2 linked regions of the Homo sapiens genome follow. The protein of the gene in region 1 purifies or fractionates together with the protein of each later gene. This does not show direct contact. Each region holds a gene or a part of one and is shown on either strand. Other genes may lie near its edges.

Region 1 (4,168 bases):
CCCTGGCCCCGCGCGCGCCTCGGTGCCTGCCCCCGCGCGCGTGCCGCCCCGGCCCCCCGGCCCGGATCCCAAGCTGCGCCCGCCCGCCCCGCCCCCGCCTCCGGCGTCGCCGTCGGGGGCCGCCGCCGAGGCTGTGGAGGGAGCGGCGGCAGCGCCGGCATTGGAAGCCTTACGCCGCGAGCGCCCGTCGGTGATGAAGAAGGCGTCCGCCGCGTAGCCCTCGCTGACGGCCGCGTCGCCGTTGATGTAGCCGCCCGCAGCGGTGGCCAGCTCCGGGCGCGGGGTGGGCGGCGGCGCAGACCCTGCAGCCGCCGGACCCAGCTCTCCACGCACAGCTGCTGCGTACATGGGCTCCGGCGACGGCCCTTTGAGCAGCGCAGCCTCGGCGTCGCCATCGTAGACGGACGAGGGCCCCACGTAGTCGCTGAGGTACCCTGCGGGCGGAGGCGGACGGACAGCGGGAAGGGAATGGGGCGGCGGCAGGACACACACGGGGGATGGGGGGGCGGGAGACAGCAGACGCGGACCGGGAGACCCGGGTCCGGGAGAGAGGCGAACAGGGAGGAGGACAAAGGAGAGGAGGCCGAGGGACCGCCGGGCAGGGAGGATGGAGACAGCAGGGAGGGGAAGAGAGGGGAGGAGAGGATGAGACAGGGCCGGGCCACGCTCCGCCCCCGCCGCCCCACCCTCGCAGAGAGGAGGAGAGAGGCGCGTCTTCGGGCGCGGCTGCCCCCCTTCCGCGGAGCCTCAAGGTCAGGGGGGAGGGGCGGCGCTTCCCTCTCCCTCCTCCCCCACCCACCCTCCCCTCCCCCTCGGGTTCTCCCCACTTCAGCAGTTTTCCCTGATTATGCAACACACTGCAGACCCGCGGCGCACAAAGCCAGGACTGCCGGCCCAGGGACCCCGTCTGTCCCACCTCTCCGGGGTCCTGGCCGGCTCTCCCTCTGGCCTGCAGAACGTGCGCTCCATTTTGATGTTGACCCCCTCTGGCCTTCTGGTTCCTCCAACAAGCCCTGAAGACGTCTCCCTCCCCCAGTTCCCTCCGGCCTCACCAGCACCTCCCTCAGCTCTCCGGCCACCCACTGGACTTGACCCTGCCCTCCCTGCTCCTCCATGCACTCTGCTTCTCCTCCGAACTCCCTCTCACCATCCTGCACCCTTGGGTCCTACCCTGTTCAACATTGCCCTCTCCTGCTCACACCCTAACCCCTTTCAGGGCCTTCCCAAGCCCCTGAACTGTGCAGAGAGGGCCAGGGCGTCCACTTTCACAGGGACGAGCTGCAGGAGGGCAGCATCACTTATACCGGTAGCTGCAGTTGCTCCCCAGGCACAAGATGGATCTCATAACCTCAAAGTCACAAATGCACGCCCCTCGCGACGCTCTGCCTCCTTCAGGGCTACACCCAGTCTCCCAGCATGATCAGCCCTTGTGTGCCCTCACAGGGTGGGCTGCACACTGATGTGCCGAACTCACCACCTCCTCACTCACGCAGGGTCACACATGCAGTCACCCCGGACACACTCTCAAGTCACATGGTGCACAGCGGCCTCAGAGTCACATGGTCCCATGTAGTGGCACACAGGCAAGCACACACACACACAGGGTCACACACAAGCGCACACGGTCACATGGCCACACACAGTCACATGGACCCACACAGGCTCACACTCCTGCAGGTCACACTTGCTCTGCCACCCCATGCTGCTGGCACTCCTGTCCCCCTCTCCTGCATGCTGACAGTTGTCCTTGAACTTGGGCACCCTTACACAAAGAGCCTCCCCCTGCCTCCCACACCTTGGGCGTCCCTTGCTCACAGCCTCCTCCCTGCTTCCTCTCCCTGACCCAGGCTTCAGGGAAGAGACTGCTGCTGCCTCTGCTGGCCCTCTGCTCTGACAGGTGGGCGGCCCTGTTGGACCCCCTGCCTACTCCCTGGAGCTCCCTGCATTCCCCAGCTAACCCTAGCAGGTGTCCTGGTGCAGTCAAGGAAGAGGAGAGGGTGGCGAGGCGGCCCTGGTCTCTTGAGTGTAGGTCTGTGTGTGCCGGCATGGCTGGGTCCCGTCATGGCAGCGCCCATGCGGCTGTGTCTGTCCCAGCATGGGTCAGGATGTGGGTCCATGTGTGCGTTTGGGTACCTCAGTTCCTGATCCTCTTCCCCACCCTCTGTCCAACGTCGACACTCTCCCTGCCCAGCCTTGGCCTCTGTGTTCCCCTTCCTCCCCTCTACCGTCCAGGCTCCAGCCACAGACTCTTGCCGTTTCTGGTTCCCTTCAGTCTGTTTCCCCGGGCCCTGCCCTCCGCCCCCACACTCTGGCCCTCCACCGCTTCCAGCAAAGCCCCAGGCCCCGCGCCCTGGTCTCAGACCAGCGCTCACCTTTATCGTGCAGTGGCGCGCCGAGGTCGCTGCGGGCGCGTCCGTAGGCGCTCTCCAGGTCGGCCGAAGAGAACGCGTCAAGTTTGACCTTCTTGACCAGGAAGGACCTGGGCATGATTCCTGCGGGGCTCCGGCGCTGTGGGCCTGCGGAGCCGGGGCTTGGGGGGGCTGCGGCGGCAGGGCCCCGTCACCATCCGAGGAGCGGCGGAGGCAGCGCGGGTCCCCACTCTGGCCTTTGGATGCTGCCGCGCGAGTGGTGTCCTCTCTCCTTGCTGCCCTGCGTCTCCTCCGTTGCCCCTCCGGATCCCTCTTCTTCCTCCTTCCTTCAATCCTTCCTTCCTTCCTTCAATCCTTCCTTCCTTCTCTCCTCTTCTCTCCTCTCCTCTTCCTTCCTTCCCTCCTCTGGTCCCGGCTTCCCAGCCCGCAGTGCCGCCCCTGGACAGGCGGGGGAGGAGGCTGGGGGGGCGGAGAGGGGGGGAGCGGCTCCGTCCCGGGCCTGGAGGCTGCGAGTGGGTGCAGGGCTGGCCCGGCTCGGTGGCCCCCTTCCCCTCCCCCCCCCCGCCGCCGCGGCGGAGCCTCAGTCAGCGGCCCCCCATGCCCCCGGGGGCGGCGGCGCCGGGCCCGGAGAACGCGGTGGCAGCGGCAGCGCCGGCAGCTTCAGCACCGCGGCCAGCGCCGGCCTGGGCAGCACCGCGGCCAGCGCCCGGGCGCGCTCAACCGGCGCGGGCGGAGAGGGGCGGTCCGCGGGGGTTTGGCCGCCGGGCAGGGGTCCTCGGCGGGGGTCTCTGGGAGGCTTGCTTTATTGTTCTGCAGCCGGAGCGAGCGGCAGTGGCGACGGCGGCGGCGGCGGCGGCGGCGGCGGCGGGCGGGGGGCGGGGGTCCTGGGGGGAGGGGTGCGCAGGGAGGGCGGGCCGAGGGAGGGAGGGAGGGAGGGACAGGGGCTCCGGGGGCGGGGCTCGGCGCTCGGACTGCTCCTGGGCCCGGCCTCCAGAGCCCGCAGCCGCCTCTGCCTGCGGCCCGGCCCAGCCTCTGGCTTTTAAAGCCCAGGAGCTGGGGGAGGGGGAGGGAGGTGGGGGAGAGGCCGGCGGAAATGGCTGCGCTGGGCCGAGCCCCGGCCTGGGTCTCCTGGGAGGGGTCCCGGGGATGCCTCAGCCTGCGCGAGTGGGGAATTCCCCCGCGCGGCTCGGGGAACCGCGGCCCGGCAGCCAGCAGCATTGTCGGGCGTGTGGGGAGAAATGGAGCCAGGCCTGGGACCCAAGCGCCCCGGACTCGGGGTCTTGTGGGGAGGAACGTAGGGAGGACCCCAGTCCCGCCTGCCTCGCTCGGGGCCTGGGGCGCGGGATCTGCGGGGGCGGGCGGGGGAGGCGGGAGCCGAAGGAGCAAGTGCTGAGGCAGCGAAAGCGCAGCGCGCGCCCTGTGCCGCAGTGGCTCCCGCCGCTCGGTCACCCCGGCTGACCCCGTGCACGCTGGAGGGGCCTACCCGCCCCCGCCTCTCTCCCCCCGGGCGGGTGTGCGGCGCAGCGGCGTCGCTGCGAGCCGGGTGTGGAGCTGGAGAGGGGCTGCCACGACCCTGCTCCAGAAATTCTGCTGCTTTGGGGGTTTTCCGCCCTTCCGCGCGGCTGCAGCTCCCCACGGCAGCCCCGCAACCAGGCGGATAACCCTTTCCTCGGCCGCCCGCCCAGCGTTTGCAGCCCCCATGACGTCAGGCTCAGCGGCCAATGGCGGGGCGCCGGGCGCGGGGGCTCCGGGGCTCCGGGCCGCACAATGGCCGCGCGCGGGTGCCTCTGTCCCCAATT
Region 2 (3,500 bases), on another chromosome or scaffold:
TTGGTCATGTGGTCAGTCCTCACTGCAAAGGAAGCTGGGAAACGTAGTTTTTATGCTGAAGGCTACATTCTAGGGAACACTGTGGCTCTTACCATAAGAGAAAGAAAAGGAACCTGGGTACAGCAAGGTAGCTCGCAGTCTCTGATGTGTGTTTGTGTGCAGTACCTGAGGAATTTGGCTCCGATGTGGGGACTTGATGAGGAGCCTGGTCATTGAGGGAGTAACAAATTGCCAGTGGGGACTGGGGGCCCTTATCTGAGACTTCAGTGTGACAGCCTTCTGCCCCTCCTGTCCCCCACCAGGATGCCAAGGATGGGCGCTTGTTCAATGAGCAGAACTTCTTCCAGCGGGCCGCCAAGCCTCTGCAAGGTACCTGACAGGGAACTGGGCAAGGAGGGGAGAGTGAGGGGGGCGCCAACTTGGTCACAGCACTTGACTTCTACCTGCAGGCATGAGAAGGGTGGGCTTAGATTAAAGGCCCAGGTTTGCTCCCATCTGTGTCCATAACCTGACTCCTGTGACCCCTCAGGCCTCAGTGTGTGTTGTGACTGGCTCACACCAGCTCTTGGAAGCCAAGTATTAAATTTTCAGGCTGGGCGTGGGTTGACGCCTATACTCCCAGCACTTTGGGAGGCTGAGGTGGGCAGATCACTTGAGGCCAGGAGTTTGAGACCATCCTGGGCAATGTGGCAAAACCTTATCTCTACTGAAAATACAAAAATTAGCCGGGTGTAATGGCATGCACCTGTGATCCCAGCTACTCAAGAGGCTGAGCTGAGAGAATTGCTTGAGCCCGGGAGACAGAGATTGCAGTGAGCTGTGATTGTGCCACTGCACTCCAGCCTGAGCAACAGAGCCAGACCCTGTCTCCAAAAAAAATAAAAATAAAAATAAATTTTTAGGAAGATGGCAAGCTGGTTGTTACAGACAGCCAGTACTAGCAATTAAATTATATAGGCCAGGCGTGGTGGCTCATGCCTGTAGTCTTAGCACTTTGGCAGGCTGAGGTGGGTAGATCACCTGAGGTCAGGAGTTCAAGAGTAGCCTGGCCAACATGGTGAAACCCCATCTCTACTAAAAATACAAAAATTAGCCAGGCGTGGTGGCGTGTGCCTGTAATCTCAGCTACATGGGAGGCTGAGGTGGGAGAATCACTCGAACCTGGAAGGTGGAGGTTGCAGTGAGCCGAGATCATGCCACTGCACTCCAGTCTGGGCGATAGAGTGAGACTTAGTCTCAAAAAATATATAAAATAAGTTACATAATTTTACAAATAAATTATATTCAAAACAAAGGTAATGAACCCTCAGAAATTCATCACTTCCTAATTATTTCCTACATGTCCTGTGATCTCTGCCAGTGAGGTTGTGTGCACTATTGTCTCTGTGTGGTGAGAATGCTGCATGATGGCCTCCCCTGTATATCTCTCCCACCCCACCTCCAGTCATGTCATGTTGGTAGCTTGGAGTTGGCCATAGCAGGAGTATTTATTTACACTGCAGAAATTAGCAAATGCAGTCGGGCGCGGTGGCTCATGCCTGTAATTCCCACACTTTTGGAGGCGGAGGCCGGTGGATCACCTGAGGTCAGGAGTTCGAGACCAGCCTGGCCAACATGGCAAAACCCATCTCTATTGAAAATACAAAAAAAAAAGGCCGGGCGTGGTGGCTGATGCCTGTAATCTCAGCACTTTGGGAGGCCGAGGCGGGCGGATCATGAGGTCAGGAGATTGAGACCATCCTGGCCAACATGGTGAAACTCCATCTCTACTAAAAATACAAAAATTAGTTGGATGTGGTGGCACGTGCCTGTGATCCCAGCTACTCGGGAGGCTGAGGCAGGAGAATCACTTGAACCTGGGAGGTGGAGGTTGCAGTGAGCCGAGATCACGCCACTGCTCTCCAGCCTGGTGACAGACGAAGACTCCATCTCAAAAAAAATAAAAAATAAAAAAAAATTAGCTGGGCCTGGTGGCAGAAGCCTGCAATCCCAGCTACATGGAAGGCTGAGGCAGGAGAATTGCTTAAAATCAGGAAGCGGAGGTTGCAGTGAGCCAAGATCGCGCCATTGTATTCCATCCAGGGCGACAGAGCAAAACTTCGTCTCAAAAAAAAAGAAAAAAGAAATTAGCAAATGCTACCCATCAGGACTGCCTTCCCTGGATAGCCAGCTGTTAAACTAGCATCAGCTCGCCATTGGTTCTGGTCCACCCCACTGAGATCTGGAAGACAGGCAGAGGCACATTCCGGTGATGCCATGGCTAGGTTAGACACGTGTTGATCTTGTTAGCTCTATGTGTGAATTCGGAAGTAACCCTGTCATTATCCCATCTCTGCACTCCAGACTTGTATATGCTTCCTCCAGAGCCACCATGATCACCCCATCACCTGCAGACCTGGATCACAGACATTCATGGTCACCCATGCCTGCCCTGTCACCAGCCCCTTCCCACCATCACCCACCCACAATGTTGTCACCTCCAACAAGGAGACTTGGAGGCGGTCTGGGCACTCTGTGCTTCTTCTCTGAGAACTAGCTCTTACTGCCATGGGCTTGGGACTGGGTGGGTTCTAACCTCAAGCCCCTGCTTTCCGCAGTCAACAAGTGGAAGAAGCTGTACTCGACCCCACTGCTGGCCATCCCTACCTGCATGGGTTTCGGTGTTCACCAGGACAAATACAGGTGAGCTGCTCTGCTCACTGCTTGCCTCACCGGCCTCTTTCCTCTTCTTCCTGTTGTGACTCCAGGCATGGCTGGGACCCCGAAGCCGTGGGCCAGGTCTTTGCTTCCTGCCTTCTCGTAGTTTTGACCTAGTTTGCTGCCCAGCCAGTCAGAACCTTTGATCTCACCTGGGACCAGGACCTTGCAGCCCACGCAACAGTCCATCCTTGGCGGCCGGTACTCCTCTCTCCCCTGTTCATCTCCCACCTCCTGGGGTGCTTGTGTCTTCCAGGTTCTTGGTGTTACCCAGCCTGGGGAGGAGCCTTCAGTCGGCCCTGGATGTCAGCCCAAAGCATGTGCTGTCAGAGAGGTCTGTGCTGCAGGTGGCCTGCCGGCTGGTGCGTACCCAGAAGTTGCTCAGCTGCCGCGTCAGGGAGGGCACATCACATCCTAGTTTAGCAGGCACTTTAGTCATTGACACTTCCGGCCCCCACCCCCCTCCGCTGCACACTGGGGGCTGGCTCACTGACTGCCATGGCAGGCGGTTAGAGCCGAGATGATGGGTGGTCAGTCCTGTGGAGGGCCCTTGGGGGGCCATGAGCATTGGAGGAAGGAGCCCCGGCCTCAAACTGAAGGCTTAGATTAGGCTTCCTGGTGGAGGGTGTTTCTAAGCCAAGACTCTCAGGATGAGTGGAAATAGCAAAGTGCTGGGTGGAAGAGGAAGAGGATAGATGAGGAGAGGATGGTCCGGCCAAGGATACAGCTGGGGCAAGGCTTGTGTGGAAGGGAGAGCATATGGCATTTGTTCATTAGTTCATTCATTCATCCCCATTAAATAT

The links. Proteins that work in one complex are often made in the same cells at the same time.
Region 2: the proteins of SCRT1 (region 1) and VRK3 purify together in Homo sapiens (affinity purification with mass spectrometry; one large-scale study listed by BioGRID and IntAct). This does not show direct contact.

Annotation. Positions count from the first base shown.
Region 1 is NC_000008.11:144,333,683-144,337,850, forward strand, and holds the start of SCRT1 (transcriptional repressor scratch 1), read right to left. Parts: upstream 2,801-4,168; 5' UTR 2,488-2,800; coding exon 2,373-2,487; intron 1,510-2,372; exon of another isoform or gene 1,305-1,509; intron 435-1,304; coding exon 1-434. UniProt on the Homo sapiens protein: Transcriptional repressor that binds E-box motif CAGGTG. Can modulate the action of basic helix-loop-helix (bHLH) transcription factors, critical for neuronal differentiation.
Region 2 is NC_000019.10:49,994,373-49,997,872, reverse strand, and holds part of VRK3 (serine/threonine-protein kinase VRK3), read left to right. Parts: intron 1-302; coding exon 303-369; intron 370-2,597; coding exon 2,598-2,682; intron 2,683-2,953; coding exon 2,954-3,059; intron 3,060-3,500. UniProt on the Homo sapiens protein: Plays a role in the regulation of the cell cycle by phosphorylating the nuclear envelope protein barrier-to-autointegration factor/BAF that is required for disassembly and reassembly, respectively, of the nuclear envelope during mitosis.